Regions from separate parts of the Homo sapiens genome. Here region 1 is linked to region 2. The links come from fine-mapping of genetic effects on gene expression. Tissue or cell type: lung. Region 2 holds a variant in brackets; the other region holds the start of a gene. All regions are shown on one strand. Distances are from middle to middle.

What was found. PIP is the estimated chance that this variant, and not a neighbour inherited with it, causes the effect.
Region 1: CYRIA starts here. The variant in region 2 is fine-mapped to the expression of CYRIA in lung (TOPMed, PIP above 0.99).

What each region holds. Positions count from the first base shown.
Region 1 is chr2:16,664,164-16,668,550 of GRCh38, reverse strand. CYRIA (CYFIP related Rac1 interactor A) reads left to right here and starts at 2,717. Exons shown (of 12, transcript NM_030797.4): 1 at 2,717-2,771. RefSeq lists silencers at 2,511-2,680, 2,751-2,800.
Region 2 is chr2:16,612,106-16,616,492 of GRCh38, reverse strand. The region is part of intron 2 of CYRIA (CYFIP related Rac1 interactor A); the gene reads left to right. Among named protein-coding and RNA genes, the nearest start is that of CYRIA, 52 kb to the left of the region's middle. The variant C/T (reference allele first, on the strand shown) is at 2,208.

The DNA of each region.
Region 1 (4,387 bases), 52 kb before region 2:
TTGCTAAGGACCTTAACCTATCGTCAGGCTCCTTATTCGGGGCTCTGGTTAAGGCCACTCAGTCCCCAGGAGCTCCCAGGATCAAGTGCAGATTCTCAGGCTGTTGTTCTAGCTCTCCACTCTCTGTCCCACGTTGTGGGATCCCCCTGGTACGCTGGCCACCCCGGACCACTTTTCACCCAGGCCTCCACTTTGTCTCTCTACTTGGAGTGTCTTTGTCCGCATTTCCTGCCTATTGAAGTCTAACTTCCCACGTCATATTTTAGCTTAAAAATGCGCTTTTCAAGAATCTGCTCTCAGTTTCCCCCAATCACAAAGAATTCTTTCTTTTCCTGGGTCCACACAGCAAATATCTCTGTTAGTCTTTTTCCACAGGCAGCCTGCCTGTGTCCTCCTCAAGACCAGGGAACTGTGTCCTTATTCCATTACTTAGCACAGTGCCTGGCACTTTGTCCATGCTTCATCAATCTCTTTTAAAAAAGAAATACATGAAAAAGATGTCCTTGAAACTAGCACAGCTCAGTATACATTTACTTTAATTAAGATATTAAGGTTCATCTTAGCACACATATTGTGAGTGACAACCATCTGAAATTCAGTCTCAACTTACCTGCCTCCTAAATGGCAGTTTAATTTCACTATAATCTTTATGATAATAACCTTTAAACTTGTTATTAGTATTACTGATAAAGTTAAAAGACTTTCATCTGGTAATTTTGTCTTAGGAAACATTCAATTATTAAATTCCACACTGATCATTAGAAAACCCTATTATTTCATAATGGGCTGGGCAATACCATGCAGGTATCCCTCGATTATTGAAACAGAAGCCATCTCTAAGTGTGTGGAAGTGAAATCTCATGCATCAAATAGTCTACTCACAAACTTGAGCTGTATTAGTAGAGACAGATGGGTGTAAAGTGAAAAGTCCTCTCATGGTCTGAAATGATAGTGTTTTATGGGGATGAATGGTGTTTGTGGCTGATTAGTCCTCACTCTTCCCAAAACCTGGCCAAACTCAAGGTGGACAGATTAAGCCAGAAAATTTTAGGGGTGTGTGTATGTGTGTGTGTGTGTGTGTGTGTGTGTGTGTGTGTGTGTAGTAGACATGGTTTACCTCATGGCAAGAAGGCTTTTCTCATAGAGCCACTCACAGATAAAACACCTTTGCCAGACGGCTGCGGTGGTTCACGCTTGTAATCCCAGCACTTTGGGAGGCCAAAGTGGGTGGATCACGAGGTCAAGAGTTCAAGACTAGCCTGACCAAGATGGTGAAACCCCGTCTCTACTAAAAATACAAAAATTAGCCGGATGTGGTGGCAGGCGCCTGTAGTCCCAGCTACTCTGGAGGCTGAGGCAGGAGAATTGCTTGAACCCCGGGGGATGGAGGTTGCAGTGAGCCGAGATCACACCACTCCACTCCAGCCTGAGCTACAGAGTGAGACTCTGTCTCAAAAAACAAAAACAAAAAAAACACCTTTGCAGGAATTGACAACAGAGGCTGGTCTAGGGCATGGGGAAAACTCAAAAAGAGAACGGGAAAGTGTTTCTTCTGGTCCTAAGGACCCCTTCCAAGTGGGAAAATATTTCACTCTAACTAGACAGTGCCTTCCTGCCCTCTGTGAATTTTTGCCAAAAAACAGACCAAGAGCCTCTGTGGGCAGTTCAGGAGAGCCTTTCAGAGTGCAAAGGAAGCTTGGGCAACAAGTCCTCCCAGGGGAAACACCCTGGATCTCAGAAAGGAGAGGGGCCTGAACACCTTCTCCTGATGCTTCCCGCCTCCTCTGATCCCAGCCCACACAGGGCCCCAACCCATGCAGCTTCGGGCACGTACCTTGGCACACTATGGGGATTTAACACATGTTTCATGATGTTCTGGCTGATGGACTGGGAAAGGAAGCACCCGAAGCCGGGGTCCCCAGGAGCTCTCCCTCCCCTCAACAGGAGCTCTGACTCACAACCTGTTTGGCACTGCTGAGTCCTCTCCGGTTTCCTGAATCTCCCTCTCTCTAATGCAAAAAGCCTCCATGGCAGATGTTTTAGAACAATGATCACGTCAATGACGCTGTAACCCACTACTTTCTTTTTGCATCATAGAATTTTTTAAGTGTTTTTGCAGACTTACTCTTTAAGGTTAATTACATGTTTTGGATTGAGCCTTTGGGAAGACTTTACAGTGGTCCTATCGGATAACTGCGGGCCCCAAGGCTGGAGATCTGTTAATAGGGTGGGCAGAAAGGGACTGGGAGCGAGACTGGGTTCAGAATCTCAAGTAATTTGGAGTGTGCCTAGGGATTGGGATGATTTGGCTGGGCATTAATTTGAAGGTGAATATGCGTCTAGAGATTGCGGGGATTTCTTTTTCTTGGAGGGCAACCGTGGGTGTGGAGGAATTTGGTGTGCAGAAACAGAAAGGTCTGGTTCGGGCTTCCTCTGGGAAGGCAAGGCCAAGTGGCCAAGGCTGAGAAGGGGCAGGGGCGACCGTGCTGGGGCGGGTCCGCACCAGCTCCTGGGAGCAGAGAGCAGAGCCGGGCAAAGAGATGGGGTTGTCCAGGCTAGGGTGAGGACGCGGCCGGTGACAGCGCGGGTGGGGATCCCCCGGGGCCGGGGCGGGGCGGCTGCCGCGAGCCGGGCTGGGGGCGGGGCGGGGCGGGGAGGGACGGGGAGGGGCGGGGCGGGGCTCCGAGGCCGTCTCGCAGGCTGCGGCGGCCGCGGGAGAGGCGTACTCGGCGGCGGCGGAGCGGGCGGCAGAGCAGGGCGGCGGCGACTCGGTGAGCGCGGCGCGGCTGGGGGCGCGGCAGGGGCGCGGGCGGGGGTCTGCGGGCGCGGGGCTCGGCCTGCACGGGGCACCGCGGGGCACCGCGAGGCGGGGCGGGCGCCTCCCTGCCATCCTTCTCCTCCCGGACGCCCCTGCAGCCTTTGGGAGGGAGGGAGAGCGGAGGACACCGTCCGGGAGCCCTTCTCTAGCGATCGCCGGACAGAGGTCCGGCTTTGTGCCCCGTTGCCCTCTTTCTGAGAGGGCTGCCTCCTGATTGTGTTCCTTTCCCAGACCACCCTCCCTCGTCCCTCACTCACTTACCCCCCACCCCAGGTATCATAAGCTCCATTCTTGCAGGGGACCCCTAACACTCCCCTTCCCACCACCCGAGGCCCCGGGGTCCTGGGTACTCTCTACAGCCCCAAAGGGAGGGATGGCCCCCTCCCCAGCCCCTGCACACCTGGACCCTTCTGTTGCCACCTGCCACAGACGTTCTTAGCCAGCCAGAAAGCTGCTGTGCCTAGGACCCAGCACACCTTGCCGTCACCCTCTCTCCTCCCCCAGAACCCAGAACCCCAGTTTGGCAAAAGGCACTTTTCCAATACTGAGCTTTGGGAACAATTTGACCCACTTCCCAAAATGCTGGTCCCAGGCCAGCCATGCTTTTTGGTGGAGACACCTGTCTTGTCTGCCAGGAGACATTCTCTGTCAAAATGGGCCAGCCCGTCCCTGGGTCCTCCTCCAAGCTGCTCCTACTCGCTAGCCAGTGTCCCCAGAGACCAGGGCCAAGATCTTTGTCATTTAAGGCCTCCAAAGCTATTTCCCCACGCATCCCCAGAATTCCCCCAGCCACTGTTTTGGGGGTGCCAGGTCCAGAACTGATGGAGCAATCTTTCTGTGTCCAGGGCCTGATGTCCTCTCCCACACCCTTGTTTACCCGCCTGCTCCCCAGGGAACCCAAGACAGGGTCATGGGGCTGGAGTTTAGGGCCCTGATCTCCCCTGAAGCTCTGTGACCCTCCTTTTCTCCCTGTTAGAAACTTTCCTCTCTGTCACCAGTCACTATCTCCTCTGGATGGGACCTGGGCCATCTGCACAGTGTCGAGTCCCCAGGGCACAGAATGCTGATCTGGGACCCTGGAAGGCTGGGACTTGTGCTGGGGCAGCAGGAGGAGAGTGGCTGCTAGCCAGGTCTGGGCTTGGGTACCAGAGTTCTTTGGGTGGATCATTGTCGGCTTTCACTGATCTCTGGTTGGGGTTCGAGGGCTTGCTTTGCAGTGGAGACAGGAGGCAGAGCAGGGGCTGTTTTTCCTGCGTGCTTCTGACTGTCTTGTGTTGCTATGGTGACAGTTTTGCCTGTCTTCCTCCTTCTGACTCTTCTGGGAGCTGGTTTTTATTGGTCCGTTGTCCTGTCTTTCATGGCTCTAATTTCTCCTTTCTACTTGCTCTGAAATAAACAGTCATAAACATGGGCGCTGGGCCCAGGCTGGGGGCTGGCAGAACTTCACCTCCTGCTGGCCCTGGGTTCCTGTGAGGGGAGAGTGGGAAAGCGAGGTGGAAACAGACCTGCCCACATTCCCTCCTGCCTCTGGGCTCTGGCTCTGGGAAGGGGGCAGCAGCAGCATCACGG
Region 2 (4,387 bases):
TGAGCGAGGAGTCCTCTCAGAGGGAGTGAGAGGCCTGGAGTCAGTGTGGAAGCAGGAGCCCGGGGGAGCCAGGGAAGGCTGGAGAGTTGACAAAGGGTGACGTAGGGAAGGATGTCATTGTGAATGGGATAGTGGGAAACCAGCCAAGGGGAGAGAGGAATTGTTCAACAAAGAGTTTTTGGTGCTAGTGTGAGCAGTAAGTTCTACTTGAAGCCTTTTCAGTGCAAATGCCTGCAGGCCCCAGGAGCAGATCCCTCCACTTTGCCCAGCCCTGGAGTCAGGAGGAGGGAGATGTAGAATGTTCAAGTGGCGGGTTCCCACCGTGAAGGACAGAGCAGGCCACCACTCTACGGCCAAGTGAGCACAGGCCTCTTCTGTGTGCAGCCTGAGGCAGGCTGGCCTCGTCCCCTTGAGGGACCTGACAAAGACTGGCTTGTTCTCCCCCGACATCAGGCCTCACCCTCAGGATTGCTCTGTCCTTCTGGGGCAGGATCTCACACAGCGATAATCGAGCGAAACAGAAGAGAAGAATGGAGTGAAGATGGTCCCAGGCGTCGCCATGCCAACCCTGGGCCTGTGGAGGGCGCCTGCCCTGTGTCCTGTCTGCACCTCCCAGTTTGCACCAGGGATATCCCAGTGGTAGAGCTGCTGGTATCGGTTCAGAAAGGCCAGCTGCCTCGTCACTGAGCCACCGAATGTTACAGTAACGTTCAGTAATAGCTGCAATAGGTAGGTTGACTGTTCTCTGCTTTTGCATTGCATTTAGCGATCTAGATTTTCTATTATAACAGATATTTTTGTGGAGAGTTGAACCTTGGAAATTTCATAAATCTTATTTTTGGAGGGATCTGAGGGATCATTGGGTCTACCTCTGTGTGATCTCATTTGCAGGTGAAGAAACAGGCTGGGAGAGTGGAGGCAGTGTTGGTTGTAGAAAGAGTGAAGACTTCATAGCCATCTAGTCCAGCTCAAGGACTGAGATATTGTATGTGAAGCACTTAGTACAAAGCCCAGCCTGCAGTGGGGGCTCAGTGGGTCCTATCCCTGGTTACAATGTAAACTTTCATTTGTGCAAGTGGAACTAATCAAGGGGCCCACTTGTAAAACCAAATGCATACTAAACCAGTAGGAGAGGAACTCCGGATTTCGGGACCAATCCTAAAACGACCACTGGTTACTTGGGGGAGGCAGAAGAGAAGGGGATATGACACTGGGACTTCAGATCTTTAGTCAAGTGCAGTGGTTCTCAAACTTGAGGACACTGAGGATTCGATTAAAACATAGACTTGCGTTCAGCAGTTCTGAGGTGGGGCTTGAGAGACTGCATTTGTAATAAGCTCCCAGGTGGGTGCCAGTCTCCAGACCATGCTCAGAGCAGTAAGAGCCTAGAAAACTCAAAGAAAAAACAATAAGCCATTTTGTATTTCATGGTTAGAAGCAATTTATGCAGAATTCATTGCCAGAGCTCCTTTATGGACAAGAACTACTGGCTCCTGTTTGGAGCCTGATCCAGTCCATCTAATGGAGTCACACAGAAGGGAATGGTCTTCATGAGTTCCAGAATCTTGCTGTGCCGCAGTTTCCTTATCTAAAGGCACTACTCTGCAGAGAGATTTTGAAGATGAGTAAGAGCCAGCAAAGAGCTTGGCATCCAGTAGGCATTCAAGAAAAGGCAGCTGTGGAGAGGGATGTGGCACCTTGCCAAGGCCATACAGCTGCTACGTGGCAGGTGACCGGGTGTCTCTACGCTCCGTCTCAGTGTATTTTCCATCTTCCACTGAGTACCAGAGGACCTGAGATTATTTTGTGTAGCTGAGCTGGGTTGTCAGATGATATGAGCTGGGGAGCAACTCAGACCTCATGTTGGAATCACAATTTGCTGTCTTCAAGTGGAATGAAGAAATAGCCCAAACAGTGCTTGATCTGTCTGGGAGGCTTGCAGGCTCTCCAGAGGGTGAAAGGCAAAGCGTTCGAATGTAGAGGACTGTGTGGCCACAGACAGCAGCCTGGGAACCCCGACGACAGGGGAAAGTTTAAATCAGGATAGAGCATCGCTGAGTCATCAGGAGCCAGGCTGGGCTTACACAGAAATTCAGAGATAAACTTTGTGCGTTTGTTTGTTTGGTTTAATTGTGGTCTTGGCTTATCAATCTAAACAGGGAAGTTCCATGAGGACTTTGCTGCCTTCTCTTGTGGATTGCAGATTT[C/T]CTGCAGGGACATCCTCCATGGGAGCAACTTGTACCTTTGTCCATCTCCCATCTGTCCATAAAAGCAGGCTCGGGGGTACAGATCATGAATTGAGGGTCTTCAACTATGTGCATTTCCATTTCCAGAGTATTTTCTGACTCAAAATATAATTTTAAGTGGGGGTTTTGTTTAAATGAGTTATAGAAACTCATTCTGATAAGCTTGTGGTAGGATTCCAACCTTTCTTTTTACCCTTAACTTGAGTGAAGTTGATTCAGCCACAACACAGATGTTTTCCTCAGTGGAAAACGTGACTTAAGAAACTAGTTGAAGGGGCTGGAGAGGATAATTACTAAGCCAAATGGCTAAGTCTATTCACGTTTCCTTCTCAAATGTCATAGCCCCGTTTTCTGGCAAAGTGGTCAAGACAGATGCTTTTGAAATGACCTTGAAGCAGCAATTGAGTTACTACATTAAGTAAGCGTTGGCTACTACAACTGTGAGTTTAAACACTTTTTACAAATGAGTGGAATCACGTTTAGAAAATATTCAGGATGTTGAACTTGATACTTCTGCTTTGTCCTTTTTTCACAAATTTCTGCATTTGTGTTCGGTACCTACCTGACCAGGTCTGGTATTTTTAATGTGAGATGATAATGCCCCTTAGTGGATAAGGTACTTAACTGCAAGCTCTTGCATTTGCCCAGAGAAAAGCTCTCCAATTTAGCAGAAATATACAATATAGTAACTCTTCAAACTAACCTACTGGAGGGTAATTGTGAGAATTAAATGAGGGCATTTGCATGTAGCGCTTAGCATAGCATCGAGTGCAGGGCTGACACTCAGCGAATGGCTGCTGTTAGTGTAGTTATCGGATCATGAGAATTTGATTTAGATGAAGGCCTTTTGAAAGCAGGGGAATGAGTGTCCTTGGGATTTCAGTGTCAGGGTCCTCTGTGTCTGCTCAGGTATGCATTATGAAAAGGGACTGAAGAGAATCATGTCCTCCCCTGGGACAGCACTACCCGCTGGCTCTCCTGCCCAGAGGTGGAGGCAGTAAATACCTGAAAATGCACTCCTGAAAATGCATGGAAGTCTCCCAGCCTTCAGCATTCTTCGAAATTCCTTCAGCTGGAATTTTGACTTAAAGGAGTGTACTAGTTCATTCTCACGCTGCTAGAAAGACATACCCAAGACTGGGTAATTTACAAAGGAAAGAGGTTTAATTGACTCACAGTTCCACATGGCTGTGGAGGCCTCACAGTCAAGGAGGAAGACGAATGAGGAGCAAAGTCACATCTTACACGGTAGCAGGCAAGAAAGCTTGTGCGGGGGAACTCCCATTTATAAAACCATCAGATCTCATGAGACACATTCACTACCATGAGAACAGTATGGGGGGGAAGTGCCACCATGATTCAATTACCTCCCACCAGGTCCCTCCCACGACATGTCGGGATTATGGGACCTACAATTCCAGATGAGATTTTGGGTGGGGACAGAGTCAGACCATATCAAGAAGTTCCATAAAATGAGCATCCACCTCCGCTTGGTGGGGAGACATTGCTATTTTGCAGCATCTATCCTTGAAGTTGGACTTCTCACGCAGCTCAGCCTCCTGCAGCTGATTGGCTGCTTCAGAGGCCAGAGCAGAGATGGTTCTGCAGGCTTGTCATCATGAAAGTAAGTCTCTGGCCATCACATCCTAGCAGTGGGTGGCAGGCTCTTCTCAAATCCTGCTGTCTTTTTTAGAAGTTAATTTGTGCATCATTGAGGACATATTTCACTTTTCTTGTTGACTCAAATTATCTTTCTTTTAACTTTCAAGCATAGCATGAGATCTTTAGCTATATCTTTATTAAAATGAGTGTCACCATGGTGGAACCATTTTTATTCCTCCCCTCCCTTCATCCCACCCTCTTTTTTCCTCCTTTTCTCTTTCTTCCTTATTTCCTTCCTTCCTTCCTTCTTCCTATCCTCTCACCCTTTTCCCCCCTCCCATCCACATGCCCTCCTTTCCTTCCCTCTTTCTTTCTAAGTAGTTGCCTGGAAGGACCTCAGGCTGGAAGAACTTGGATTCTGATTGTGGCCTTCACACTATCATTCTTCACTCATTCTTTCATGCATTCAGCCACACACATTCCCTGGGTGGCTTGCTGTGGATTCAATCACAAGTAAGTTCCAGTTCCCATCCAGGGGG